Linked DNA regions of Homo sapiens: all the other regions are linked to region 1. Evidence: fine-mapped expression QTL. A gene starts in region 1. Each other region holds a variant in brackets. All regions are shown on one strand. Distances are from middle to middle.

What was found. PIP is the estimated chance that this variant, and not a neighbour inherited with it, causes the effect. A credible set is the group of variants that fine-mapping cannot tell apart.
Region 2: its variant is the best candidate, but not a certain one, in a credible set for the expression of COX15 in whole blood (TOPMed, PIP 0.84).
Region 3: its variant is the best candidate, but not a certain one, in a credible set for the expression of COX15 in B cells (Schmiedel 2018, PIP 0.54).
Region 4: its variant is the best candidate, but not a certain one, in a credible set for the expression of COX15 in whole blood (TOPMed, PIP 0.82).

The regions. Positions count from the first base shown.
Region 1 is chr10:99,727,837-99,735,371 of GRCh38, forward strand. COX15 (cytochrome c oxidase assembly factor COX15) reads right to left here and starts at 4,291. Exons shown (of 9, transcript NM_078470.6): 1 at 4,124-4,291; 2 at 1,717-1,898. The coding sequence starts at 4,213. It overlaps CUTC (cutC copper transporter), which reads left to right and starts at 4,398. Exons shown (of 9, transcript NM_015960.3): 1 at 4,398-4,573. The coding sequence starts at 4,513. RefSeq lists an enhancer at 3,993-4,212.
Region 2 is chr10:99,703,204-99,710,738 of GRCh38, forward strand. It overlaps ENTPD7 (ectonucleoside triphosphate diphosphohydrolase 7), which reads left to right. Exons shown (of 13, transcript NM_020354.5): 13 at 1,249-7,535. The coding sequence ends at 1,480. It also overlaps a transcript of COX15 not described here. Among named protein-coding and RNA genes, the nearest start is that of COX15, 25 kb to the right of the region's middle. The variant C/T (reference allele first, on the strand shown) is at 3,603.
Region 3 is chr10:99,597,336-99,604,870 of GRCh38, forward strand. It overlaps LOC124902589 (small nucleolar RNA U13), which reads left to right and starts at 4,445; the gene lies at 4,445-4,545. The variant G/A (reference allele first, on the strand shown) is at 3,662.
Region 4 is chr10:99,814,887-99,822,421 of GRCh38, forward strand. ABCC2 (ATP binding cassette subfamily C member 2) reads left to right here. Exons shown (of 32, transcript NM_000392.5): 17 at 2,422-2,598; 18 at 3,904-4,071; 19 at 4,203-4,383. Among named protein-coding and RNA genes, the nearest start is that of ABCC2, 36 kb to the left of the region's middle. The variant G/T (reference allele first, on the strand shown) is at 3,348.

The DNA of each region.
Region 1 (7,535 bases):
TCCTCAACAGGTAAAATCAACCCCTACAGCCAAAGAAATGTGTTCTAAATGCATAACCAACATTCCTTACCCAGGGAAAAGAGACCTGTTACATGTATACAGGTTTAGATTCTTGGGTGAATTTAAAGACAATAAAATTCAAATTTGTTTCACTTGCTCATAACAACCTATATAACACATAAGGTATTTTGAAATAAGGGACGTGGAATGTGAAGAGAATTTGAGGAAGACACATTTGATTAAAACTAGAAACTTTTTTACCAAAAGGAATTAGGATTCCTAGAGTAAAAGCCTGATTTTAGGCCTGAGGCAAGAAATGCACAAGATGAGCTCGGAACATCTTGTCATACTAGAAAGTAAGGAAACTATCAAAGGTAATTAGGGCCCTGCCAAAAAGTCACTAGAGCCAATTTCAGGAGATGCCCACTGACTAAAGATGGGACAATCTGAGCAAATCACTAACACCATCATCACAACGGACCGAAACATTATCGAGTGTGTTTGAACCTATGATCTCATAATGAGCCTTAAAAATTCAAATCCTTTATTTGTTGCCTTTGGAGGATTTGGGGGACCAATTTATTATTTTGAAAATTGGTAAATAAAGGGAAAGAAGAATCAAGTATGTATCCTGCCTTTCCTATACAAACTATACCTTGGGATATCCAAACTGATGATGAGGGAAAGCTTTTTAGAGTTGAGCTAATAAAATATTATAATTTTGCTACGCTAATGAAATAATGGATCTAGGCAATGGTAATTAATGGCTGTTAACATCTATAATAGACACCAGATATTCACGAATGTTCTATTCACCTACTGAAGTATTTTGCTCCCTCATCCCTAATTTGAATCTGATCAACCAACTACTCATTCACAGGAAATAGACGGGACAAAGGAACATGTTAAATATCACACAGTTATGCAGTCAGCAAAATCTAAACTGTGCATAACCATAGGACAAATGACTAGAGTTTCCTCAGCAACTAGAAGAGGGGGAAAGGGAGGAGTGTCTAAATCTATAGTCTCTTGATAGATTTAAACAAACCTAAGAAACATGAACCAATTGTGATGTACAGAACTTCTTTGGGTTTAATTCAAACAAACTGTAAAAAAAGTTTTGAGACAAACTTGGACTCTGATTGAAAGAGAAAAGATACATAAACAATGCACAGGTACCAGTTAAGACATAAACCAGTCTTTATAGAAGGCTCCTACTAATAAAACACTCAACTGTTCTATGGCAGGGCAAGCCATCAGACATGTTCCTTCTTTAAGGCCTCGGTTTCTCCATCTATACAATGAGGGAGCTAGACTAGATGCTCTGTAAAATTCCTTTCTCCAGCTGGGCATGGTGGCTCATGCCTGTAATCCTGGCACTTTGGGAGGCCGAGGTGGGCAGATCACCTGAGGTGAGGAGTTTGGATCAGCCTGGCCAACATGGTGAAACCCTGTCTCTACTAAAAATACAAAAAATTAGCCAGATATGGTGGCACGCGCCTAGTCCCAGCTACTTGGGAGGCTGAGGCAGGAGAATCGCTTGAACTCAGGAGACGGAGGTTGCAGTCAGCCGAGATCACACCACTGCACTCCAGCCTGGCCAACAGAGCAAGACTCTGTCTCAAAAAAAAAAAAAAAAAAAATCCTTTCTCCTCAGTCAACCTGTGCTTCTACTGATGATCCAAATACCTGACTCACTACGAGCAAATTACTTACCTAGTTACTCCACCAAGAATAACTGCTCCAGCCACTGTTCCACTGCAGACCAGGAGCCATCGGCCCACCACCCGCTCAGCAGCCTTTGAGGGAAGGGACACTGTACCCCTTCCAGATTGCAAAGCTACTTCAGAGATGGTGCTGTATTGCCCTGGCCTCAAAGGGCGCCTGATGCAATCACACTAAAGATCAAGATAGACAAATTACAACTGGAGAAACAGGGAATGGCTGCTACCCACACTCAACCCCATTCTGATTAGCGCGAAGTACCATAGCATCCCCACAGCCATGTCTTGTTAAGTCATCATCTCTTATCTGGATTACTGCATCAGCCTTCCAACTGGTTTTCCAATTGGTTTTCAAATCTAGCCTCACTCAAACCTATCCCCAACTACATGAATCTTCTCATCTCTGAATACTTCCCTCAGACTTCACTCTACTTACAGATATGGAATATTTTCTTTCACCTCTAGGTCTTTCAACATTTCTCTCTGGCTTGTACACTTCCTTTCCCCTGATTAATAATACCTACTGCAGATCTCCGCTTACATGTCACCTCCTCTGGGATGTATTCCCAGGCTCTTCAAGGTCTGCAATAGGTCACTCCCACAGCACACTGGAAAGCCCTTAATACACTGTAATGTACAGTCAAGCATCACTTAACAACAGGGGCACATGTTCTGTGAAATGCATTCTTAAGCAATTTCATCATTGTGTGAACCTCATAGAATGTACTTACACAAATCTAAAGGCTGGGTGTAGTGATTCACACCTGTAATCCCAGCACTTTGGGAGGCAGAGGCAGGGAGATCACTTGGGTCAGGAATTCAAGACCAGCCTGGCCAAAATGGTGAAACCCCATCTTTACCAAAAATACAAAAATTAGCTGGGCATGGTGGTGTATGCTTGTAATCCCAGCTATTTGAGAGGCTGAGGTGGCAGGATCACTTGAACCTGGGAGGCAGAGGTTGCAGTGAGCCAAGGTCTCACCACTGCACTCCAGCCTAGGCGATGAAGTGAGACTCCATCTCTCAAAAAAAAAAGTACTTACAGAAATCTAGATGGTATCGCCTACTACACCCCTGAGCTATATGGTATGACTTATTGCTCTTAGGCTATAAATCTGTATGGCATATTATGTACCGAATACTGTAACACAATGGTATTTGTTTATCTAAACATAGAAAAATTACAGTAAAAATATGGTATAAAAGATTTAAAAATGGGGCCAGGTGCAACGGCTCAAGCCTATAATCCCAAGGCTTTGGGAGGCCAAGGTGAGAGGATCACTTGAGGCCAGTAGTTCGAGACCAGCCTGGGCAATGTAGCGAGACCCCCTATCTCTATTTTTTCAAAAATTAGGCACAGTGGCACACACTTGTAGTCTTAGCTACTTAAGTGACTGAGGTAAGAGGATGCTTGAGGCCAGGATTTCCAAGCTGGAGGCTGCAGTGAGTTATAATCATGCCACAGCACTCCAGCCTGGGTGACAAAGTAAAACGCTGTCTCTAAAAAAGAAATTTAGAGAAAAAGATTTTTTTTTAAAAAAAAGGTACACTTGGAAAGGCAGCTCCATTATAATCTTATGGGACCATGACTGTATCTGTGGCCTGTTGTTGACCAAAATGTTGTTATGCAGCACATCACTCTACCTTCAGGTTCATCTGTTTGTATCTCCCACTAAACTATGAGCTTTGGGGTGGCAGTGTCCGGTCAGTCTTGCTCTCTCCCTTCTGCTAGCTTTGTTTCTAACACTGTTCCTTTATATAATGAGACCATGATAAGGATTTCGCAAATGAATAAACTGACTTCCTCCAGGGCAGGAGTCTTGTAATATTTATCTTTCTTTTTCCAGTTCCTAATATATAATAACCACTCAATAATTACTAGTTAAGCAAATGCATGCCCTCTTCTTACTATATCCCTGTGAGTCCAAAGATCCATGCTCGGTTTCCTATTTCTGATTAACTGAGTCACCTTTAGAAAAGTAACTTTAAGCCTCAATTTCCTTCTCTGTAGGATGCAGTAATACTTCCTCATCTGACTACTTGGAACTTTTTAAGCAAAAATAAACTATATGGGTAAAAATTACTCAGCTTTTACCATGTGCTAAAGGCCTGATGTATATTAAAGAATGTAATCCTCATAACAAACCTTAAAGTAGGTATTGTTATCCCCATTTTACAGATAAGGAAACTGAAGAACAGAAAGTTTAATTAACTTGGCCAATACCACACAGCAGGTCAATGTTCCAGATCTGAACCTAGGGGCTCTGATCTGAACCTATGCGTTGTGAGTGCACTGTAAGGAGCTCCGGAAACGTGATGTGGGGCTCTACATTATCTTTATCCCGGCCCTTTCACTCCATCCCCGCTCCCGCGACTCGGAGTCCGCTGCAGTGCGGTACCTGTGCTCTAGGCGCTGCCCTAGGAGCCAGGAGCGGCAGATACTGCCTCCCCTTCAAGGCCCTCAACGGCGGAAAGAGCAATCGCTGCATACTGATGACAGGGAACAGCCACCTCTTCCACAACCCAGGGCTCTGTGGTCTCCCTCCTCCGCCAAGGAAAAGAGAAGCACTTCCGGGTCGGGCAGCGGGAGCCCCGCCTTCTCTGGGGACCGGAGCGAACAGAAGTGCGCCTGCGTTGCGACTCCGCTTTCGCGGGGGCTGCTGGGGCGTAGGTGTCGGGGACGCGCGCACGGGCGCGCGCAGCTGTTGACGCGCTTCTTAGCTGGTGCGCGCCGGAGCCCAAATTCCAAGTGGAAACTGCAGGCGCACGAGGGAGGAACGCGTGGAGCATGAAAAGGCAGGGGGCCTCCTCTGAGCGAAAACGAGCGCGGATACCGTCCGGGAAGGCCGGTGCGGAAGGTGGCGGGGGAGGGGACGGTCGGCCGAAGGCTCCCCGGGGCGGGCCGGCGGGAGTCGTAGTCAGTGGTGATTTCTTCTGGAGTCGTTTCCTCAGCTCCTTCCAGCCCCTTGGGCGGCACCTTCTATCTTTGAGGCGTTAAAGGTGTGGAAACGGAGGGCGTGACGAGGGGCAGGTAGCGAGAATGGCTCAGCTGTGGAGCCAAGGTTCGAGTCCCGGGGTCCCCTCATAACGGCCCTGCGACCTTGTGCAAGTTGGTTAACTTCAGCTTCACGTTTTTTCCGTCGCCACACGAGGATGCCAGTACCGCCCGCACCAGCAGCCAGTACTCCGCTGGGATAGTTAATTGTCGAGCGCGGAGCCCAGTTCCTAACCTGCAGTTACCTGTAGCTGCCACGGCGGGGACGGGGCTTGGTCCCCAAAGTCACGCAGCTACCAAGTGGCCGAGCTTGTGGCTGCTCCAAGACCCGAGTTCTTCCTGAGTGCCAGGGTAGCATGGCATGGCAGGTGCCAGAGAATTTGGCAAGTCCCTCTTCCTCCGTGAAGAGGAACCTTCCTAAAAGTTATCAAGAATCCTCAAAGATTTTTTCTTTATGTGGATTACATCTATCTATTTTGACTGTATTAGAAATTAAAACAAATTTTTTTTTGGGAGGCCGAGGGGGACAGATCATCTGAGCTCAGGAGTTCGAGACCAGCCTGGCCAGCATGGTGAAACCCCGTCTCTACTAAAAATACAAAAATTAGCTGGGCATGGTGGCAGGCGCCTGTAATACCAGTTACTCGGGAGGCTGAGGCAGGAGAATCACTTGAACCCGGGAGGCGGAGGTTGCAGTAAGCCGAGATCGCGCCACTGCACTCCACCCTGGGCGACAGAGCGAGACTCCGTCTCAAAAAAATAAAAATAAAATTAAAACAAAATTTTAAAATATTGATTAGAAAATAACCATAGTAAACCCATTACATATTGACATAATATTTTTTTGAAAAAGAAATATTCCTAAACAACAACAACAAAAAAAGCAAAAGAGTGGAAATATATTTTTGCAAGTTTCTTCAGTATATCTTAATGGAAGACAGCTGGATTCTCATGCCCGCTGCTTCATTCAGTCTAACATGTCAAGTAGCCTCTTGAAAACGCCTCTTCACGGAGGTTGCAGTAAGCCGAGATCGCGCCAATGCACTCCATCTTGGGTGACAGAGTGAGACTCTGCCTCAAAAAAGAAAACGCCTCTCACTTGTGAGAGAATTAAAGTGAAAAAGTCAAATAAAGTGTTAGAATTATTAAGAAAACGGTTGTAGCCCTGCAGACTCTGAAAAGTCTCAGAGGCTCCCAAAGCTCTCTGGACTACTACACTTTGAGAACTGCTGCTGCTTCTCCTTTGATCCTATAACTTTGTTGCTTGGGACAACTGCCTTGCTCTGCCTTCTGTCATAGCCTTTTTTATACATCTCTCCATCTTCTCCTGCCTAGGGTCCTTTCTTGTGTGAGGCAAATAGTCCCCCGGCAGCATCAGCATCGGCCAGTGCCACTGATCTGACAGCTGGTCTGGTAGCTACCAGGAAACTCATGGAGTTAATAATGCAGAGCTGTTGGTTAAGAGCATAGATTGACACTTAACCCTTTCACAGTTTGGGACTGATAGTATTTTTTTTTTTTTTTTTTTTTTGAGACGGAGTCTGGCTCTTGTCGCCCAGGCTGGAGTGCAGTGGCCTGATCTCAGCTCACTGCAACCTCCACCTCCCAGGTTCAAGCAATTCTCCTGCCTCAGCCTCCTGAATAGCTGGGATTACAGGCGCCCGCCACCACGCCCGGCTAATTTATATACTTTTAGTAGAGATGGGGTTTCGCCATGTTGGCCAGGCTGGTCTCAAAATCCTGACCTCAGATCCGCCCACCTTGGCCTCCCAAAGTACTGGGATTACAGGCGTGAGCCACCGCGCCGGACAGGGACTGATAGTCTTAAATAAGTAAGGCAATTGCAGTTTGATGTTAGCAGATGATAGGTTTTTGTTTTATTTGTTTTTCAAAGTAAAAATTGCTTTTTTAAATTATAAAAGCAATATTGGGTAGAAAAAATAAAGCAATAAAGAAAAGTAAAAAGAAGAAAATAAAAATAATTTCAAATCACACCCCACCAGAAGTGACCATTACCAGTATGTGAGGAACATTCTAGTAAGTGTCATTACATGAAGTGTGCATTGTTTCGTTCATTTTTTTAAATTATGTGCTCCCGGAAAAAAACTCAAAACTCTGTTTACATCACACTTTGTAATATAAATACATTAATTTTGTTGTAATTATTCAGCTTTTAGTAAATATTTGATTATTGTGTACCATGGTAGATACTGTGCTTGGTGTGGGTGATGATAAAGATTTCTCACATAAAGACCTTACTTAGGAGGCCAGACGTGGTGGCTCATGCCTATAATCCCAGCACTTTGGGAGGCCGAGGCTGGCAGATCGCTTGAGTGCAGGAGTTTGAGACCAGCATGGGCAACATGGCGAAACCCCATCTCTACAAAAAATACAAAATTAACCAGGTGTTGTGGCACATACCTGTAGTCCCAGCTACTGAGGAGGCTGAGGCACAAGAATTGCTTGAGCCTGGGAGGCGGAGGTTGCAGTGAGCCGAGATCATGCCACTGCACTCTAGCCTGGGCGACAGAGCAAGACTCTGTATCAAAAAAAAAAAAAAAAAAAAAAAAACAAACTTAGGAACTCTAAGTCAAGTAGAAGTGATCAGATATTTATCTGCATAAATAATAAAAGGTAGAAAGTAATTCATATTTTAAGAAGGAACAATTGGGGTTTCATAACTCATGAAGAGTTAAATGAGTTCAAAAGAGGGACATAAAATTTTCTACTTTGGGAGACAGAAAAAATCATGGAAATGTTCCTTGAAAAATTTTATTCAGAGATGAAGCCAGAAGGAACTCTGGGTTGAGGAGAAG
Region 2 (7,535 bases), 25 kb before region 1:
CTTACTTTTATGTACTGTCAGATATTTGGGACAATTTTTAGGTACCTGTACCCTGGACTATTTCAGATAAACTCAGATGAATTTTGTATCTTTGATGTCTGTTCCTCTAAACTCAATACCGTCAGCAGCCAGGCAGGCGACAGAAGTGAGGGAAGTGGGCTAGGTGGGGGTTGCCCACAACTGGAGCATGTATCCCAGTTAATGGGCTGGTTACTGTCACACACAAGCACTGTCCCAGCATTTGCCAGTTCTCATCTGTCCAGAAAAGTCAGAAATCCATATTTTTTATGAAGTCTTTCAGTTTAGAGATTCGCATTCTAGAAGAACACTGCAGGTCAAACCAGACAAAACTAGATCTGGATCTGGACTGCTGAAGAGTGGCTTCTGTTCTAGCCAGGTGGACCATTACACTTGGTTTTCATATCGCCTTATTTTTATCTGACTGTAATACAGTTGATCAGGTAACAGCTTTATTTAGATATATCCTAGATCCTAAGGAAACATAGTACCTTTATTTTTTATTATTTTTTTGAGACAGGGTCTTGCTCTGTTGCCCAGGCTGAGTGTGGTGGCAGTGCCGTGTTCATAGCTCACTGCAACCTTGAACTCCTGGGCTCAAGTGATTCTCCTGCCTCAGCCTTCTGAGTAGCTGGGAATACAGGTGCTCGCCACCATGCCCAGCTAATTTTTTGATTTTTCTTTTGCAGAGATGGGGTCTTGTTATGTTGACCAGGCTGGTTTTGAACTCCTGGCTTCAAGCAATTCTCCTGGCCTGGCCTCCCAAAGTGCTTTGATTACAAGCATGTGCCACTGCACTTGGCTGCATAGCAACTTTAAAAAAAGGATTTAGACACACACACTCTGATTTCTTTATTGGATTCAGGGGATACCCTATTCTCATTAGTACTGTATTTATAAGCCATATTTTAAGACTTATGTTACAGGTGATCAATCTAGCCTTTCTGTTCATTTTTTGGGATTCAATTTCAAAGGCCTTCCCATCTTGGCTTAGATTCTGGAGGGTGTAAGCCTGGAGGTCCCTTCTGGGGGCCGTGGGAAGGAAGACACAGAAGGGCTCCTGGGGCGGGGGATGTTCTTCAGCTTTGCCTGCTCTGTGGAGCTGGTGTCATAAAATGTTTATGTGGATGGAATAAATGTGATAACACTACTGGGCCTTTCAAATCAGTAAATGTCTCCCTTTGAAACTTAACAGTTTTTTCCACCTACAAATTCTTAATTCTTCCCTAGGGATCTTCGGCAGGAAGGTGTCCGACAAGCCCATGGTAGCTGGTTCCGTCTCTCCTTTGTATACAACCACTATCTCTTCTTTGCCTGTATCCTGGTGGTGCTACTGGCCATCTTCCTATACCTTCTGCGGCTACGCCGAATTCACCACCGACAAACACGAGCCTCAGCTCCATTGGACTTGCTGTGGCTTGAAGAGGTGGTGCCCATGATGGGAGTACAGGTGGGGCCGTGAGGCTGGACCAGGACTAGAGAAGCTTGAGCACCCCCGAGTTGCTGCTCATTGAATTCCTCCACTTTCTTATATAGCCTCAGATGCTGTGATGTCTGACCTTGTGGATATTTGCCCTTGGAATTTCTACTTTACTTTCTACCGTAATTCCTTCTCCGTACCCAGGTCTTCTCTGAGAGAAGCTATAATTTAATCTGTGAGGAACTAAATGACAGGAGATTGGTGCTAATACGGGGGACCAAGCTTTGTCCAAGTGAAGCAGGCTTCGACTCCTTCTGAGAGGTCTGGTGTGTTCCTAGAATCTCACCTTTTCTTCCCTTGCTAAAGCATGAAGTTTGGCATTTGGCACACTGGAAGCCTGGTTGAAATGAAATTTGTAGCATCTGATACAAAGCCAGAGACATTCTAGCAAGTGCAGCAGCCCCTTCTTTCTCTGTAACAGAGATATCATTTATGTGGAGATCCACAACCTTTAACAGGGATCCAAGATCTTTGCAGTTCAATCGACCACATAGGAATTTCCAGGCACCAAAATGATATAACTTCCTTGCTTCCTTGACAAAGAAGCCATCATGGGTGTGATCCAAGATCCCTGTCGTAGTGTTGATGATGTTAGTACATGATTTTAAAGGTTAGAACCCCTTCTAAATGAATGGTCTGTGGAAGATTTTAGTATCTTATCTGATGCCTGGTATGATGAGGATAGAAAATTTTTCCATTTTTATGTGCCTCACAGGCTGTTTGGGCATTAATTTTGCTTTTTGAGCCTTAAGTGTGTTAGTAGGATGGAGAAACTGTGATGGGGACTGGGAACCTGGATTTGTCTGATTTTAGGTCACTGTTCCCTGGGCCTGTTTTTGTGAGCCCTTACACAGGAAGATATAAAGAGAGTTCTTTCATTTCACTGCTAAAATCAGTATGTAGTATGGGGAATGTATTTGGGTTGTTTTTAAAGAAAAGGGGAACAGAATCAGGAGAGTGGGCAAAGGCAATAAAATCAAAGTTCTTATTAATTATTTCTGAGAAATAGAAGTTTCTCAATTTATGACTCTTGGAATGTCTGAAAGGGAGCAAATTTGGAATAGATCAATCTGTTAATAAGCCATCTGGCAACTTTCAGAACCTCTATTAAGAGACTGCTGAGTCACAAACAGCACTTCCATTAATGAAGCGAGAGGAAAAGCCATAATAATTACATCTTCACCCACTACCCTTCCAGAGCTTTGCTTCTCCTCCACATTTAGCCATTAAATTGCATGAGGATTTCTCTTCATCAGGGTCCGCATGGAATCTTTCTTATATTTTACCCTTTCCTACATGTAGCCTTGAATGTCCTTTCCACGAATATGCTCCCACGGCTGGGAGCATTTTCTTTTCTTTTCGTCACCTTTGATTTTTGGGATTAGATTAATAGGGGAAAAAGTCCCTGGCTTTAAAGAAAACAAAAGTAGAATTCTTCAAAAATAAATTTCATACTGGGAACAGAAAGGAACTAAATGCTTCATAAAACAGGGAAAAAGAAATTAAGATCATCCTAGAAATAAACTAAGATAAAAATAAGTATACTGACCCTTGGTTGGTAGATAAAAAGATGACCAGTCTTGTATTGTTTTAAAATTAGATAAACATGGATTAAGCATGCAAAGACTCTGTTCCTTTTTTTTTTTCTTGGAGACAGGGCCTCACGCTGTCACCCAGGCTGGAGTGCAGTTGTGCAACATCATGGCTCACCGCAGCCTCAACCTCCTGGGCTCAAACAGTCCTCCCAACTCAGACTCCAGAGTAGCTGGGACTACAGGTGTGCGCCACCACACTCAGCTAATTTTTTATTTTATTTTTTTAGAGATGGAGTCTGTGTTGTCCAGGCTGGTCTCAAACTCTTGGGCTCAAGCAATCCTCCCACCTCAGCCTCCCAAAGTGCTGGGATTACAAGCATGAGCTACTGCACCTGCCCTCTGTTTCCTTTGGAAATCTCTTACCTTTCATTAGGGTTTCTTTCATAGCAATTTCCTTTGGTTTTTAAGACTTCTACATTGCTTTTTCTTTTATTATCTGTGCTCCGTGAACCTTATGAATGCTGCTTAAAAATAATGTCAAAATATGTTTTAGCTGCCTACTCAGGTAA[C/T]GTTTTCTTTTGCTCTCATCTTGGTTTCCATATACTATTTTTGGTTTTTTGTGAGATCTAATCAATGATCTAGTCAGAAGCTACTTCACTGGCTAACAGTGATCATGTTCATGTGCTAAAAATGAACTTGAAACACGGAAGTAGTGGTTGGTCCAGTTTGAAAGCTCTTATTAGTATTCTTCATCCTGGCTGTAATAATAGCCATTATTTGTTATGCCTTTGTTATGTAGCAGACACTCTTAAGGATTTTATGTGTATTATTCAAATTGCTATTACTGTTCTTTTTATAGTTGAGAATCTCAGGATACCTACATTTATCACTTTTTCAATATATATGTATTTCTTATTCTTATTTTGTCTTGGAGTGTTTAATGTGTTATTTCCTGTTCATTACTTTAATATTATGGTATCTAGGCTTGTCTTTATTACCATGAGCAAGGTCTCCAGGAGTTCCACAGTACTGAAGGAAAATTTTGTCATATCCCTCAGAAGAACTGAATATTTATTATTGGTATGGGCTCCTTTGTTTATTCTCTTCTCCCAATTAATAGATTTTAAATGAAATCTTATTAGCTAGAAACAAAAGCCACTTACTCCTTGCTGAGAGCCAATTACTTAAATATATTTCTTCCTTATAATAAAATAATTTGCTTCTAGGAGCAGAAATCTATCTTGCCATACCCTTTGGTTTTTAAAGATTTCTCTTCTATTTGCATTTCTGCACTTTGGTGGTTCTCCCATGAAGATAATTATGGTGTCATAAAATTCACATTCCACTGGTTCCTTTGAATCTTACCAACCACTCTTGTTAACAGAGACAATGAACCTGAACTGTTTTAGGACTCTTGTTATTACTGAGACAGGTCACAAACATCAAAATAGGAGTCCGTGGCTTGTAGTGATGCTTTTTAGTCTTGTGATAGCACAATCCATCACTTTCCCCAAAATTCTTGTCATAGAACATAATGAAAAATATGTAAAATACCCATTTATGTGGCATTTCATTCACTTAAGTTGCAGTTAACTCTAAGCCAAATTATACCATTTTTTCTCTCTGTACTTTAGCTCCTTGAATTTCCTTAATCTGGGAAACTTTTGTTCCCACACCAAGGAACAAATTCAGGGGGTACAAGTGCAGGTTTGTTACATGAGTATATTGAGTGATGCTGAGGTTTGGGGTACAGATCCCATCACCAGGTGGTGAGCATAGTACCTAACAGATAGTTCTTTAATCCATGCCCTCCTCTCTCCCTCCCTGCTCTAGTAGTCCACAGTGTCTATTCTGGTCTGGGAAATTTTCATCACTTTCCACCAATCTTCTATTTATTCTCCAAATGTCTTCCAAAGTATCCTGCCCCACCCCCTCCTCATCCTAAGAGATTCCTTTAACTTCAAGATCATATCCAGTGATTGCTGAAAAATGTCTGCCATGCACTTGCTAAGCTAGTGTTTTTAGGCATTAACATTTATTATCACATCCATATTTATATTTTTGAAATAATTTATACTTCTCACTGATATCATCTAAACAGATGCTTCTCACAGTTTTATGTTTTGTTTTTTGTCAGGGATGAAAGACAAGTGAGTGGTATCACTTAAGGGAAAGAACAGTAGGCTTAACGAATAGCAGACCTGGATTCTAGTTCTGGCTTTGTCATTTACTAGCTCTGGTACCCCAGGCCAGTCACTTACCATCTCTGGTTCGGTTCTCATCTATCAAACAAAGAGGCTAGACAAGATTAGAAACTAAAGGCAGAAGACAAGGTAGAAAAATCATATGATTTTGGGAAGAGCATTTTGTCCTTTGGTTTAGAAGACCAGGCTGCCCAAAAGAGCCTCCTATTTTATCCATAACCCCTGATGATAAGGTTGGTGGGAACAGAGTTTCTAATAGTAATCATAATAAATTTCAGAAGAGTTTTAAAGCTTCTGGTCAACCCCCTTGATTTATATGGGTGATAAAACTGAGGCCTAGAGCAGTTGTAATATGTGCAAAGTCATAGTGACTGGCCTCCTAGCCCAACTACTTTGTCAGCTACAATGAAATGCTCATTAACAGAATCTTTCTGCAAGTATAAACAGAATCTATTTTTTATAAAACAGCTGGCCACAACTAACCATGCCCCATCTTTACAACTGCTTCTGACATTCATTTATGACTGCTTTGCTCACATTTAGGAATAAACTTTGAAAAAAATACTTTGTCAGAAATAGTGCCAAGTTTTCACTACATCTATTCTTGTTCCTGTATTTCTTTTCGTACTTTTAAATTTTATACATCTTTTTAAAACAATTTTATACAATTTCCTTTACTACAACATCCAAGCAATTCATTAGATGACTACAGCCTAGATGAAGGTATAAATGCCTATTACATCTACCTCATTAAAGAACTTCGTTGTAATTCTTGGGCAGTTTCCAGACTCTGTTACAGAAACAGAGGGCTGTTTCTTTTTGTTGTCTTTAAACTTTTCAAATTAATTCAAAACTAGTATCTAATTGTCCTTTTTGCTGTGGTATGTGGTGTAATGTTGATTGGGAATAAGAATTATGGTAGAAATAGCAGATGTTTCAAATTCTCCCATATTAGTCTCTTAGGGACGCTAGCTCCAGATTCCAGCCCCTGGGGCAATAACTTGTGAGGATTTTCCTGGTGTTACAAAAAATATTGCTGTTAAAAAACTAAGACTCAAAACCAAAAGTTGTGATTAATAATAACAGGATTATTAGTCAATAATATTTTGATTAATACTATAGAATAGCAACAGTGAATATACCTCAAATTGAAAACTTTTAGGTTGTGTTCTTGGCTCATTCTCTCATAACCTGGATCTAAGTTGGAAAGCTGTGGCACCCTGTTTGGGTGTCCCATCTACCCTGTTTTCTGTTTCTGCAGATGGCTTGTTCAAGCTTCATTTTAAGCCTGCTCTGTCTACTTATCTTCCTTATATCCTAATAGACTTCTCTTGTGTTATTACACATTTCTCTTTTGCTCTAATATTTCATTATTTTCCAGTTTGTCAGTACCGTTATCAGAGGGACGAGGAAGGAATAACACACCAGTTGACCATTTTGTTTCTCTGAAAATCTGAGCAATACGGAGATCCTTTTATTAGTAAAACTGAATCATTACTCATACTACAAGGGCTTTCACTTTTAAAATGTAATCCATCATTGCTTGCCATTTTTATGAAAACCAAAGTTGAAAAGTCTTCTGAATCACAGGCTATGTATAGCCACACATGCATGACTTCAGGCTAGCATAAAGACATGTCTGCTCCTGAGCCTCTTCTTTTAAAGGGCAACCACTTGTATACCCTCTGGTGGCCACTCCTCCTTCTCCACTCCAAGGCAGCCCTGGTACTTTCCTAAGTGGCCCCTCCTACAGAGCACTTGCCGGCATTTGGCCTGCTGCTGGTGAAGACGCCCCTTACTAGCTTCATAAATGTTTTTCTGCAAGCAGGGATCCCAGACACATACTTTGGTTTCTAGTGTTTCAGTTACTATGTTGTATTTGAAATTCTCATTCCACAATTACCCTTTAGTTGAAGTCCTGAAGTACATGCCATGTACTCCCCCTTTATTTCTACCTTGATCAATGGCCTCTGCGGAGTGTAGTGAAAGACATCTTTTTATTATGATCTACACTTTAAAAAACCAAAGGCTGCCTGTATTACATTGCTTTGGGGAGTTGTTAAGACTCTGTTTTTTCTACTGCTTCACATTAAACAATAATTTTGTTGAATTTTGAATTCTTAAAATTCTCACTGACAAACATTTTAGGTCAGTGTTGAGGAAAATGTGTGATGCATGTTAGAGAGGTGATGCATTCTCCCTTATGCAGGGACATGGGTATATGTGTTACATATGCTGATATATAACCCACCATTCATCCCAGGACCACAAGGGTAGCTGTAGATAAACTGGTTATCC
Region 3 (7,535 bases), 130 kb before region 1:
CTTTGGGAGGCAGGTGGATCACTCGAGGTCAGGAGTTTGAGACCAGCCTGCCCAACATGGCGAAACCCTGTCTCTACAAAAAATGTAAAAATTAGCCGGACATGGTAGTGTGCACCTGTAGTCCCAGCTAGTCAGGAGGCTGAGGCATGAGAACTGCTTGAACCCAGGAGATGGAGGTTGCAGTGAGCCAAGATTGTGTCACTGCACTCCAGCCTGGGCAACGGAGCGAGACCCTGTCTCAAAAAATACATCTATCTAAAAGTAAAATAAATAAAAGATAAAGAGAGAGTGAGCCAGGTGGTATCTGGGGAAGAGCGTTCCTTGCAGAGGGAACAGCAAGTGCAGCAGGGTAGGATCACACGAGACAATGGATATGACAGCCCTGGGCTGTCATGTAAACACAAGGACCCTCCAAGCCGGCCACTCCTCACTGGCCTCCTGAACCTCTGACAGCTAGCAAAGAAGTGACCAATTACAAAAACCTAAGTATTACACTTTACATTTCCAAAGGTCCTGGGTCCCCTCCCGTGAGCACCACTCCAGGAACAGGCAGAAAGAGAATGGAAACAACTTTCCTCATGCCTCTATTACAGCACTTACGTCTCATGATCTCTTTACAAATCAGTCTCACCCCTGGGACTGGGCTCCTGCAGGCAGGACTGCTTCTCACTTCTTAGGGACCCTGAGGGGCACTGGCGAGCCACACTACCTTTGGAATCCTGCGTTGGAACGCTTGTTCTGTCATGTTCTTGCTGTGTGAGTTCAGGCATGGTTTTTTTTTTGCCTTTCTGAGCCTGAGCTTCCTCATCTGTAAGATGGGGGCATTTTTATAGCTAATTCCCAGAACTGTTTTGAGAATCAACTGGGCCCAGCATACTGTAAGTGCAAAAGTGTAGGTAAATTATTGTCATTGCTCACATTCTGAATGCCTGACAGTAAGTGCTCAAAAAATTTGGTAGAATAGAACTCAAGAGTAAGAAAATCCTCCAGGAAGAATTTCATGTTTAGAGCTGCTGCTATTTCGAGGGGATGTGCTTACCCTGCAAGTACCCAGGGAAGGATATAGTCATCTGTCTGAGAACACCTGTGAGACACGACATTGACTCAAGTTCCTAATCTGATCCCTTGCTCCAGAGCCTGTTTTGATGTCCTGTTCTTAGGTAGAAACCTTGTCAAACCATTAACATGATATGAACAGTTACAGTGTCTGATCTTCACTGGAAGCTAAGAAGTAGCATTCACTCCCCCACATATCTTTGGATGTCTTCCTGCTCCCACTAGCCTCCTCTGGAGCCATGTATGGGCCTTTCACTCACCCCACCCTGCCCCTGGCACTGTGTTGTAGCCACCTCTGAGATTTGTGGAAAGCAGTCTTAGAATAAGGTGAGCTAGGCAGAAGATAAAGCAGGAATCTCAGGATTTAGCCTTAAGTTCTCACGTCCTGGAGATGAGACCTGCAAGGACCATCTTGGCAATGTAATTGTGTGGGTTGGAAAAATGGAAAGAAGCAGCTCATCATCCTGGATAAGGGAGGATTTGCGGAAAAGGGAAAGAAGCGCTTGGTGCTTGGATTCTGACAGTAGGCTGATGGCTGGAGGCGGCTGGGCAGTGGAAGTGGATTCCCAGCGGCTGGCAGGAGTATGTGGCAGACAGGGCTGAGGAAGCTGTCTCCCCGGGGATAGCCTCCTTGCTTGCTCAGATTCCAAGTGACCGTCAGCATTTTGTTTGCTTTCCTGAGACCCAGCCCTGGCATGAAGAAATAATGGTGACCTTGAGACCCTCAACAAGCTGAATTACTAAACTTTGGTAAATCAATGCCAGGAATTGAGAGTGTTTAGCTCAAGTGGGCAGCAGACCTAGGCCAAAATGGCATTACAAAAACATGGAGGTCACTGTTAACACTGTGCACATGAAGTCAAAGTGGAAGTAAGCTATTAAGATCTTAGTATGAGTCAAAAAGGGCCGGCTGACAGTCCTTGGCTATATGACTGGGAGCAAGTGCCTTAACCTTTCTCAACATCAGTTTTCTCATCTATAAAACAGGAATAATAATTCCTGCCACATCTGACTCATAGGGTTCTCATGAGACTCAACATTTGAGCAAATTTAGAGCACATGATATCAAGTGATAGTACATGACTTCCTTTATGTTTCCCGCAGAGAGTGGTTGTGAGGCTCACCTGAGCAGCTACCTGCAATGATCAGCACATAATAGATGTGCAAGAATTATAATTCAATTGTTGCTTGTAAAAATGCTACACGTGAAAATGCAATATAAGTGCACAGAGTATTATAAAGTGTCAATTCTTATTTTCATCTTTTATTCATCTGCTAGCAGATAGGATTAATACACGATCCCACAGTCACCTGTCCAGCCAGGTAAATTTTTCCATCCCTGGTCCCAGGGGACCTCAGTAACTTCTTGCCATCCTCCTTACTCCTCAAGTCAGCCCCACACACGATCTCTTCCTCCTGAAGAACAATGCCTCTTACAGGCACAGGACTCCAGTCCCCTCCAATTTGGTCTTTGAAGCAAGACCTCCCTTTTCTGCTCTCAGGATCAAGCCGCCTCTCCTCCATACCTCCGCTTCTTCCTTGAGCCATGACTGCCAGATGGAGTGCCCTTGTCTCACCTCTCTTCTTTTTTCAGGCTCAACTCTTCTTCAAAATTCATACCCCTTCCTCTGGGAGCTTCCTCTGATTTACCCCACCCCACAGATCACTCAGCTAGTGTGGGCTCGGTTTGTGTTGTACAATTTGGCTTTTGCTGACGCTTGATTTTCTAAACGTTCTTTCAGCCCTGTGGCAGGGACTGCATCTTCTTCTGTCTTCACCTGTGCCTAGTGGAATATACTGTTTAAAGGAGGCAATCCAGGGAGAATATTCCTTGACCAAGTGTCCCTCACCTTATTGTTTGCCTTCCTAGGCCCCTCTCTAGCAGCAGAAGCTCCCCAAGGAGCAGTGCCACCCTTCAATGAAAAATCTTGCTTTAGATGTCAGTGGGGGTCCCTACCTCCCACCATACCCAGGGAAAGCTTTCAGTTAGTGCCTGCAGGGGACTAATTCTTCATGACTCACGGCTTTTCTATTCAGGTATAATTGCTCTTGTTCTCCAATTTGGCAGGGGCCTTGCAGCCAAAAGAAACCTGTGCAGGGAGTAAATCAGAGCATTGGGTCAGTTATCTTTGCAATGAACTGGGGTTTTTCTTCTAGTTTCTTTTTCTTTTTCTGTCTTTCTTTCTTCCTCTTTTTTTTTTTTTTTGAGACAGAGTCTTGCTCTGTCACCCAGCCTGGAGTGCAGTGGCGCAATCTCGGCTCACTGCAACCTCTGCCTCCTGGGTTCAAGCGATTCTCCTGCCTCAGCCTCCCGAGTAGCTGGGATTACAGGTGTGTGCCACCACGCCTGGATAATTTTTGTATTTTTAGTAGGGACAGGGTTTCACCACATTGGTCAGGCTGGTCTCGAACTCCCCACCTCAGGTGATCCGCCCGCCTCGGCCTCCCAAAGTGCTGGGATTACAGGTGTGAGCCACCACGTGCCCAGCCTAGTTTATTTTTCTTTTCTTTTTTTTTTTTGAGATGGAGTCTTGCTCTGTGCCCTAGCTGGAGTGTGGCAGTGTGATCTTGGCTCACTGCAACCTCCGCCTCCGAGGTTCAAGCA[G/A]TTCTCTGCCTCAGCATCCTCAGTAGCTGGGATTACAGGCACCCGCCACTATGCCCAGCTACTTTTTTTGCATTTTTAGTAGAGACAGGATTTCACCATCTTGGCCAAGCTTGTCTTGAACTCCTGACCTTGTGATCCACCTGCCTCGGCCTCCCAAAATGCTGGGATTACAGGCGTGAGCCACCGCGCCTGGCCTAGTTTATTTTTCTATGTATGCCTATAGACAGATGCCCAGGCTGTGTCCCCACCCCCACCATGGTGTGGTTCTAGGCATGCCCTGGGAGGACCAGAATCTAAGACGTCTGAGCTGATGTCACTGGTGGGGAAATGCTTAGAAAGAAAGAGCAATCCTGAGTTTGCTTCAAGGTACAGATTTGCTCCCACATTTCTCTTCCATTTTCCTTTGGTTTCTGTTCCCTCTGCATTTATGTGCATGCTCAGCAGTGGACATATAAGATAAAGAAGATCCTGTCTGTCCTGAGAGTCTCACAGTCTGGCAGAACTTCCTACCCCACTAGTGGGAAGCCTCTTAGAGGGTCCCTGGATTCCTGCTCTTCTCTATTGTGCTCCTAAATTTTGAGGTTAAAGATCATTTTAAGAATCTTATGGATTCTCTACCCTTGCTCCAAAGGCAGACATATTCAATATTTTGCATAAAACTCCGAGGGGTTTATAGACCCGGTAAAGCCCATCCACAAAATCCACAAGCTCCACTAAAAAAAAAGTCAACAAGGATGAGAAGGGGGAAGAAACTTAGAATGGAATACAAATAGAAACAAATGCATCCTTTTGTAGCCCGTGAACATGATGATTTGGGTTTTCACACACATGTGAGATGTGCCTCCTTCAAACCTTAAGACATCAGCATGTTACCTGACGTGAAAAAAAAGGAATGAACTTAACTCATTTTAAATAACTCTATTTTAAACAAATAATATTGCGATGCTGAAGGGAGGATAAAAACCAAATAAACAAGCCCAACAAATATTTAATTCTAGTTAGAAGGAGTTTTTTCTGTAGTGATATGGGTGAGCAATTCTGAAATACCTTTTGTGTGCTGTAGAGTTGCACAAATGAGTAAATGTACTGAGGATATTGGAAGCTAGTTCTTGCTGTTGGAGAGGAGAGTTATAAATATGGAGAAAGGGAGGACTAAAATGAATTTTGTGGTGTTGAGTTGGAACTGGAGGTATCTATATGAATCCATGATTTTGTGTGTGTGTGTGTGTGTCTGTGTGTACAGATGTAGAAATTAAGATAAAATATGTATATTTCTTAGCTCTGTGGGCTAAAGGGCCTAGAAGTAGACACTACAGTAGCATTGAGTATACCTGGCACTTGGATCTTGGTTTCTAAATACCATTTCGTACTAAAAAAAAAAAAAAAAAAAAAAAACTAGGGCTCCTTGGAGAAATGACTAATTCTAGGACTGAGAGGGGGAAAGTACAAGATAAGCTTAGAATATCGTGTTGTGCCAGAAAGCAAGGAAGTGCTTTTTAAAAAATGGAGATATAGAAAAAGAACACAGGAATCAGAAGGGACCCCCATTGGCCAAATCTGGGAGTATTCGAACATCAGCATAAATAATGGTAATTATTTATTATCATCACAGTGGTATTACAGCACAATATTACAGTGGTAATATCACTATAGAATAGCCATAGAATAAAATAATCTATGAGCTCATACGAATATAAATAAATAAAAGAGAAGGGATAGCTCTCTCTTATAGCAGAAATGATAACATCAGAATATCATCTTTGTGCAACCATGATTTAGACAGGAATTATCAATGGATGCTAAAACTAGTGGATAGAAGTTTGATAAAGAAGAGGATATGTACATAGATTCAGAGCACCCCCATGAAAATAACTTATTGATTACAAAGGGAAAATTAGTAACTCCATGGTGAGTTCCTCTGATGAACACAACCATAACCATTTAATCACAGTTAACAATACCAATAAAGGGATGCACTGACCTCACTGCCTTGAAAAGGACTCCATATCATTTCTATGGTACACCTGCCAAAACTATAACCTTAATCTAATTATGAGGTAGCATCAAACAAACCAAACTGAAGGGCATTCTACATAACAACTGGCCTGTAATCTAAAAACAAACAAAAAAGCAAGTTCATGAAAGATAAGGGAAGGCTGAGAACCTGATCTAGATGAAAGAAGATTAAAGAGATATGAACAGTAAATGCAATGTGTGATCCTGAATTGGATGCTGGATCAGAAAAAAACCAGCTATGAAGGACATTATTGGAGCAATTGGTGAAATTTAAATATAAACTATAGCTCAGATAAGCATTTTGTATCAATGTTACAAATTCCCTGATTTCCATAAATGTGTTGGGGTTATGTAAGAGAAAATTCTTTTTTTTTTTTTTTTTTTTTTTTTTTTTTTTTTTTTTTTTTGAGACGGAGTCTCGCTCTGTCACCAACGCTGGATGGAGTGCAGTGGCGCGATCTCAGCTCACTGCAAGCTCCACCTCCCGGGTTCACGCCATTCTCCTACCTCAGTCTCGCGAGTAGCTGGGACTACAGGCGCCCGCCACCACGCCCGGCTGATTGTTTTGTATTTTTAGTAGAGATAGGTTTCACCGCGTTAACCAGAATGGTCTCGATCTCCTGACCTCGTGATCCGGCCGCCTCGGCCTCCCAAAGTGCTGGGATTACAGGCGTGAGCCACCACGCCTGGCCGAGAAAATTCTTGTTCTTAGGAAATACTGACATATTTATGGATAAAGGGGGCATAAATAGTTCAGAAAAAATATGTGTATGCACATATATGGATTGATAGAAAGACAATAGATCAAATGGGGCAAAATTATAGCAATTAGTGAATCTGGTAAAGAATATACTGTTTTTGCAACTTTTCTGTAAAAGTGTGAAATTATATAAAAATTAAAAAGTAGATAAAAAGAGTATTTGCTCTAAGCTGGAGCCCTTTTTTTTTGGAGACAGAGTCTCGCTCTGTCATGCAGTGGTGGCATGGTGTGCAGTGGTGCGACCTTGGCTTAATGCAACCTCCTGGGGTCAAGAGATTCTCATGCCTCAGCATCCTGAGTAGCTGGGACTACAGGCATGTGCCACCATGCCCGGCTAATTTTCATATTTTAGTAGAGAAGGGGTTTCACTATGTTGGCCAGGCTGGTCTCAAACTTCTGACCTCAGGTGATCCGCCCACCTCAGCCTCACAAAGCGCTGGGATTACAGGCACAATCCTACCATGCCCAGCTAAGCTGGAACTCTTTTTTTTTTTTTTTCTTTTTTTTGAGATGGAGTCTTGCTCTGTCGCCCAGGCTGGAGTGCAGTGGCTCGATCTCTGCTGACTGCAAGCTCCGCCTCCTAGGTTCACGCCATTCTCCTGCCTCAGCCTCCCGAGTAGCTGGGACTACAGGCACCCACCACCACGCCCGGCTAATTTTTTTTTTTTTTTTTGTATTTTTAGTAGAGACGGGGTTTCACCATGTTAGCCAGGATGGTCTCGATCTCCTGACCTCGTGATCTGCCCGCCTCGGCCTCCCAAAATGCTGGGATTACAGGCGTGAGCCACTGCACCTGGCCGCTAAGCTGGAACTCTCATACATTGCTGGAGGGAATTCAAATTGCTACGACCTCTTTGGAACTTCGGTAATGTCTTCCAAGGCTAAACACATATATCCCTGTCACCCAGCAAGTTTGCTTTCATATTTAACCAATGGAAAAGAGTGCTTCTTTCCGCTAAAGGACAGGTACAAGAATGTTTATAGCAGTAAAAACTGGAAATAGTGGAACACTGGAAGCAACCTGTGATGGTTAATTTTATGTATACTTGGCTAGGCAATGGTGCCTAGTTGTTTGGTCAAATATTAGTCTGGATGTTA
Region 4 (7,535 bases), 87 kb after region 1:
TCCACCTCCTGGGTTCAAGCAATTCTCCTGCCTCAGCCTCCCAAATAGCTGGGATTACAGGTGTGTGCCACCATGCCCCACTAACTTTTTTTTTTTTTTACTTTAAGTTCCAGGATACATTTGCAGAACGTGTAGGTTTGTTACATAGGTGTACATGTGCCATGGTGGTTTGCTGCACCTATTGACCTGTCATCTAGGTTCCCTCCCCTCGCCCCTCACTCCCCAACAGGCCCTGGTGTGTGTTGTTCCCTTCCCTGTATCCATGTGTTCTCCCTGTTCAACTCCCAGTTATAAGTGAGAACAAGCAGTGTTTGGTTTTCTGTTCCTGTGTTAGTTTGCTGAGGATGATGCTTCTAGCTTCATCCATGTCCCTACAAAGGACATGATCTCGTTCCTTTTTATGGCTGCATAGTATTCCATGGTATATATGTACCACATTTTCTTTATCCAGTCTATCATTGATGATGCCCGGCTAATTTTTGTACTTTTAGTAGAGGCGGGGTTTTGCCATGTTGGCCAGGCTGGTCTCAAACTCCTGGCCTCAAGTGATCCATCTGCCTCAGTCTCCCAAAGTGCTGGGATTATATGGGTAAGCCACTGGGACTGGCTAATTATGCTTTTTTTTTTAACGGAGGAAAATGTTTTCATGGCATCTTCATCAGTACTCTGAACTTTTCCAGAGAGCTAAATTTAGGGAAAATTATAGTTATTTTTGAATTGTTATCACTACTTGTACCAAACAGAGGAGTATCTATAGATTTTCAGCTTTTTTTCTTAAGATCTTCATATATATATTGCTAAGGGTTTCTTTTTAAGTATGAGAATGCTTCCTCCAATTGATTTATATTGACCTGCTTGACAAAAAAATGTAAGAACCAGCTGTTCTACCATATACTGACATCATTTCCTGATTTAGCAATCACTAATGAACTAATCTGCAATTTAAAAAACATGCGCTATAGCAGAGCAGGCTACAGATTTAAGTCTGTCTTCTAACTCCTTTTGGGAAGCTTTTTTCTTGCTAACTCATAACTGGGTTCTTCCTCAAACACAGGCCTTTGTTGGTCTCCATTTCTGGTCTTGTTTTTTTTTTTTTTTTTGAGACGGAGTCTCAGTCTGTCACCCAGGCTGGAGTGCAGTGGCGTGATCTCGGCTCACTGCAACCTCCACCTCCTGGGTTCAAGCAATTCTCTGCCTCAGCCTCCCAAGTAGCTGGGATTACAGGCACATGCCACCATGCCCGGCTAATTTTTGTATTTTTAGTAGAGACAGGGTTTCACCATCTTGGCCAGGCTGGTCTTGAACTCCTGACCTCGTAATCCACCTGCCTCAGCCTCCCAGTGTGCTGGAATTACAGGCGTGAGCCACCGCGCCCGGCCTCCATCTCTGTTTTTTGTTTGTTTGTTTGTTTGTTTGAGATGGAGCCTCACTCTGTCTCCCAGGCTGGAGTGCAGTGGCCCAATCTCAGCTCACTGCAGCCTCTGCCTCCTGGGTTCAAGCGATTCTCCTGCCTCAGCCTCCCGAGTAGCTGGGATTACAGACTTGTGCCACCAAGCCCAGCTACTTTTTGTGTTTTTAGCAGAGATGGGGTTTTGCCATGTTGGCCAGGTTGGTCACTCCCGATCTCAGGTGATCCGCCCACTTCGGCCTCCCAAAGTGCTGGGATTACAAGCGTGAGCCACCGCGCCCAGTTTCCATCTCTCTTTGGTTATAATCTTGCTTCTTAAGATGTCATCTATACCATGGGTCCCCAACCCCGTGGGCCTCAGACTGGTACTGTTCCATGGCCTGTTGGGAACCAGGCTACACAGGAGAAGGTGAGCGGCGAGCGAGCATTATCACCTGAGCTCCACCTCCTGTCAGATCAGCAGCAGCATTAGATTCTCATAGGACCATGAACCCTATTGTGAACTGCACATGCCAGGGATCTAGGTTGCATCTACTGCCTGATGATCTGAGGTGGAACAGTTTCATCCCGAAACCATCTCCCACCACCACCCCATCTATGGAAAAATTGTCTTCCACAAAACCGGTCCCTGGTGCCAAAAAGTTGAGGACCGCTGATCTATACCATTCCCTTGTCAGTGTTAGCCTTTCGTTGGTCCTAGTAAACTCAATTGGGTTTGACTAAAACCCTCTTCTAGAAGCATCACACACATTTATCATCTAATTTTCAGGATCATGGCTGAAAAACGATAGTCCAACAAAAGTGGATGGGGCTTTTAATGGTGAAGAGGATATTGAGTCCTGAGAGTGGAATAACTACAAGCACGTGAATACATATCAGATCCTCAGTCATCCTGATGCACAGTTATTTAAATTTAAGCTCCATTTGTTTCTTCCCCTCTCCAGCCACCCCGTCCTTCAACCCTGCGTTTCTGGAGGTGCAGCTGTAACATGATCTGATCCTTTTTCATCTAGGGCACCACTGCCTATGTCCCACAGCAGTCCTGGATTCAGAATGGCACCATAAAGGACAACATCCTTTTTGGAACAGAGTTTAATGAAAAGAGGTACCAGCAAGTACTGGAGGCCTGTGCTCTCCTCCCAGACTTGGAAATGCTGCCTGGAGGAGATTTGGCTGAGATTGGAGAGAAGGTACTTGGGATAACAAGGGATCTTCAAGGGTGAAGGCATATTGAAGAGAAAAAGTGAGGATGGTGGTGAAGAACTACACAGGGGTAATCTAGTTGATTAATTTAGGTAGTCATATTTGGAATAAACACCAGAAATCATGTGTTTGTACTAAGTGGCCACAATATTCCATGTAAATAACTCAGAATTTCAAACTTTCTGCTTGGAAACAGATACAGGAATTATGTAATTTAAATCAAAGATGATGAGGCAAAGGCCATGAGAAGTTAACAGTGACTGGCCCAAGGTTGATCTCACAGGTGGTGGGGCAGAAGTGGGACCAGAGCCTAGGTGTCCTGATTCTACTTCTGTATCAGTGAGGCCAGAGGAAGATTCTACTAATCTGCTTTGAACACTTAGATGTTTATTGTGAATTATCTTTTGATGTTATTAAAGGCCTTTCCTAAAAATAGACTTTTAGGGTTGGGCACAGTGGCTCACGCCTATAATCCTAGCACTTTGGGAGGCCAAGGTGGGTGGATCACCTGAGGTCAGGAGTTCAAGACCAGCTGACCAACAAGGTGAAACCCCATCTCAACTAAAAATACAAAAATTAGCCGGGTGTGGTAGCAGGCGCCTGTAGTCCCAGCTACTCGGGAGGCTGAGACAGGAGAATTGCTTGAACCAGGGAGGCAGAAGTTGCAGTGAGCTGAGATTGCGCCACTGCACTCCAGCCTAGGAGATGGAGCAAGACTCCATCTCAAAAAAAAAAA[G/T]ATTTTTAATGACTGTATTGTATTTATTATATAGATCTAGCATAATTTATTTTGAAACCTCTAAATAAAGACCCTGCATATTTAGGATGTTTTCATCCTCCCTCCCCATTACTAGAAATAAATGTAGCAATCTTGGGGAACAAAAATCTTGAGATGTTAGAAGATTAATGAAGATACAGCTCTGGAGTAATTTTGTTCATTAATTAGCATACGCTTATTGAGCACCTACTATGTGCCAAACAGTGTTTTAAGTTCTGGAATTACATCCATGAACAAAATAGAAAAAACCTCTGCTCTACATTGTCACAGGGTGACAAGCAACAAAACTATTAAATAAGTAAATTATCTGATAAAAAGTGGTAAGTTGGCCATATCTAATTATTAGGACTAAAGTTATTTATTTGAATCAGTTCTTTATTTGTATAAAGGAACTTGTAAGATTTTTAACCCCTTGACACCTTATTGAGACAAATTTCTTCCTTTTACCCCTCCCTATTAGATTCTGTGAAGGTGGATCTAGGGAGTAGTGCTTAATATGAATTATTTTCTTCTTCAGGGTATAAATCTTAGTGGGGGTCAGAAGCAGCGGATCAGCCTGGCCAGAGCTACCTACCAAAATTTAGACATCTATCTTCTAGATGACCCCCTGTCTGCAGTGGATGCTCATGTAGGAAAACATATTTTTAATAAGGTCTTGGGCCCCAATGGCCTGTTGAAAGGCAAGGTGAGAAATCATTGAACATGATGAAGATATAAAGGTGGGGTGGGAGGGAGAGGGGAGGACATGTCTGGCAAGTAAGACAGGGAAGATGGTGGACATATGGTAATCAACACAACTTCATATTATTTTTATAGACTCGACTCTTGGTTACACATAGCATGCACTTTCTTCCTCAAGTGGATGAGATTGTAGTTCTGGGGAATGGAACAATTGTAGAGAAAGGATCCTACAGTGCTCTCCTGGCCAAAAAAGGAGAGTTTGCTAAGAATCTGAAGACATTTCTAAGACATACAGGCCCTGAAGAGGAAGCCACAGGTATGTAAGAAGGATTGGGACAAGATAGAACTTGGGCCATGGGTGGAATGGTAAATCAATATCTAATTCCTGAACTGCTCAGTATCCAGTGAACTAGATTTGGAAGCAAACTACCCAGAGATTCAAACTCTGCTTTCTGGGTTCTGTGTCTCTTTGAGGAAACATAGAAATTGAAACTCTATGCCTGGGCCAAACTGGTGACTTATCCTGCTCATCTGATGTCTGACACACAATCAAAGGACACTCTTTAGAAGGGTACAACTGAAAGTCTGAGTGAGTAACCCTTGTGGAAGAAACACCAGTGGCACAACGGTCCCTCTTTTAGGGATGCCATGTTCCTATTGACTCTAGTCACACATGTCATCCCATCTACCCCAAATCCATTAAAACCACTTCCTCGACAGCTTCATGGGCTGGCACTATTAGTGTACTGCTAAATTCTTGGTAGATCCTAACAAAGGGATTTTGATTAATATACCAAAACCACTGGGTGTTTGAACCAGAAAAAAATTATGGCAGTTGCGTAGTCTCAGAGTATACCATAGCAACAGCCTCTAATATCACCACCATTGGGTTCACCAGTTAGCCCCAGTCAGCAGTGGAGCTCTGTTTACTGTGACCCTTCCCAAGGACCTGCCAACAGCAGTCCTGTGCATTGGTCTGGTTATCACCCTCAGGTGGTTGTCACCAGCAGGAGTTCAGGTCGAGAAAGCCAGGGCAGAAGGCTGTAGAGGCATTCCAGAAATCAGTCAGATGAGGGAGTAGCTACACAGCCTACAAGTGACAGCATGTTCTGACCATGAGGTGAGGACAAGTAATGGTTTAAAACCACCCTGGGAGGGCCAGGCACGATGGCTCACGCCTGTAATCCCAGCACTTTGGGAGGCTGAGGCGGGTGGATCACCTGAGGTCAGGAGTTCGAGGCCAGCCTGACCAACATGGAGAAACCCCGTCTCTACTAAAAATACAAAATTAGCTGGGCATGGTGGCACATGCCTGTAATCCCAGCTGCTTGGGAGGCTGAGGCAGGAGAATTGCTTGAACCCAGGAGGCAGAGGTTGCGGTGAGCTGAGATCGTGCCATTGCACTCCAGCCTGGGCAACAAGAGTGAAACTCCATCTCACACACACACACACACACAAAACACAACAACAACAAGAAAACCACCCTGAGAAGCCCAAGAGTTTGAAAGAAAAATCTAAGCCAGGGCTGGATGTGGTGGTTCACACCTGTAATCCCAGCCCTTTGGAGGCCAAGGCGGAAGGATCACTGGAGCCCAGGAGTTTGAGACCACCCTGGGCTATATAGTGAAACCCCATCTCTGCTCAAAAAAGACAGAAGAAAAATCTAAATCAGGAAGTCTGTAGCTTTGGAAGGAGAAGGCGGGAACAAAGAACAGGATGGTGTAGGTGACAGGAATTGGGAGCCAGGCCAGGAGAGTGGGGCAGGAGTATCAGGGACCAGCAGAAAGGAGCAATTGAAAGCTTTGCATCAGCCTTTATGTGCTCCAGGTAGTAGCGTGGAGAAAACAAAAAGCACCTGTGAAGGGGTGGGTTGCCCCTCCACACCTGTGGGTGTTTCTCGTAAGGTGGAATGAGAGACTTGGAAAAGAAAAAGACACAGAGACAAAGTATAGAGAAAGAAATAAGGGGACCCGGGGAACCAGCGTTTAGCATATGGAGGATCCCGCCAGCCTCTGAGTTCCCTTAGTATTTATTGATCATTCGTGGGTGTTTCTCGAAGAGGGGGATGTGTCAGGGTCACAAGACAATTGTGGGGAGAGGGTCACAAGACAATTGTGGGGAGAGGGTCAGCAGACAAACACGTGAACAAAGTTCTTTGCATCATAGACAAGGTAAAGGATTAAGTGCTGTGCTTTTAGATATGCATACACATAAACATCTCAATGCTTTACAAAGCAGTATTGCTGCCTGCTTGTCCCACCTCCAGCCCTAAGGCGGTTTTTCCCTATCTCAGTAGATGGAACATACAATCGGGTTTTATACCGAGACATTCCATTGCCCAGGAACGGGCAGGAGATAGATGCCTTCCTCTTGTCTCAACTGCAAGAGGCATGCCTTCCTCTCATACTAATCCTCCTCAGCACAGACCCTTTACGGGTGTCGGGCTGGGGGACGGTCAGGTCTTTCCCTTCCCACGAGGCCATATTTCAGACTATCACATGGGGAGAAACCTTGGACAATACCTGGCTTTCCTAGGCAGAGGTCCCTGCGGCCTTCCGCAGTTTTTGTGTCCCTGGGTACTTGAGATTAGGGAGTGGTGATGACTCTTAACGAGCATGCTGCCTTCAAGCATCTGTTTAACAAAGCACATCTTGCACCACCCTTAATCCATTTAACCCTGAGTTTGACACAGCACATGTTTCAGAGAGCACGGGGTTGGGGGTAAGGTCACAGAATCTTAAGGCAGAAGAATTTTTCTTAGTACATAACAAAATGGAGTCTCCCATGTCTACTTCTTTCTACACAGACACAGTGACAATCTGATCTCTCTTGCTTTTCCCCACATTTCCCCCTTTTCTTTTCGACAAAACCGCCATCGTCATCATGGCCCGTTCTCGATGGTCGCTGTCTCTTCGGAGCTGTTGGGTACACCTGCAGACATGTGATAAGTGAATCTACTGATGGGACTGACAGTAGGTACTTCTACCAACCAATTTTGGACTGCAGGCATTAAACATCCTGGTGCTCTCCCTAGGCAAATAGGAGGATAACGATACCCAATGGAAATATTTATCATCATCCCTTCTTCCTCAGGTTTGGCAGGGCAGCGATCATCTGTGGGGCCAGGTACCCATACGCTATCATTAACATATACTTCTATAGGATTATCCATCCATGTGACTGCCCGAATTAAGGGCGGGAAAGGCACATAGGCCCAGTAGGTATAGTTAGCTGCAGCTGCTCCTGCAGGCATAGGGAGACTTACCACCGTTGATACAATCATCAAGGCTGCAAGCAGCATACTCTCTGGGGTTTGTGTCACCTTTGTGTTCTCTAGATATTTTGTAGCTAACTGCGTCAGCTTCTTTAGTTGTGCCCAAGTTGGCGGCTCTGCCTTCTTGGTGGATGGCAACTTCATCTGTTCTTCTGACGTCACCATTTTGTTCATCTTGTGAGTCAACGGTGCTC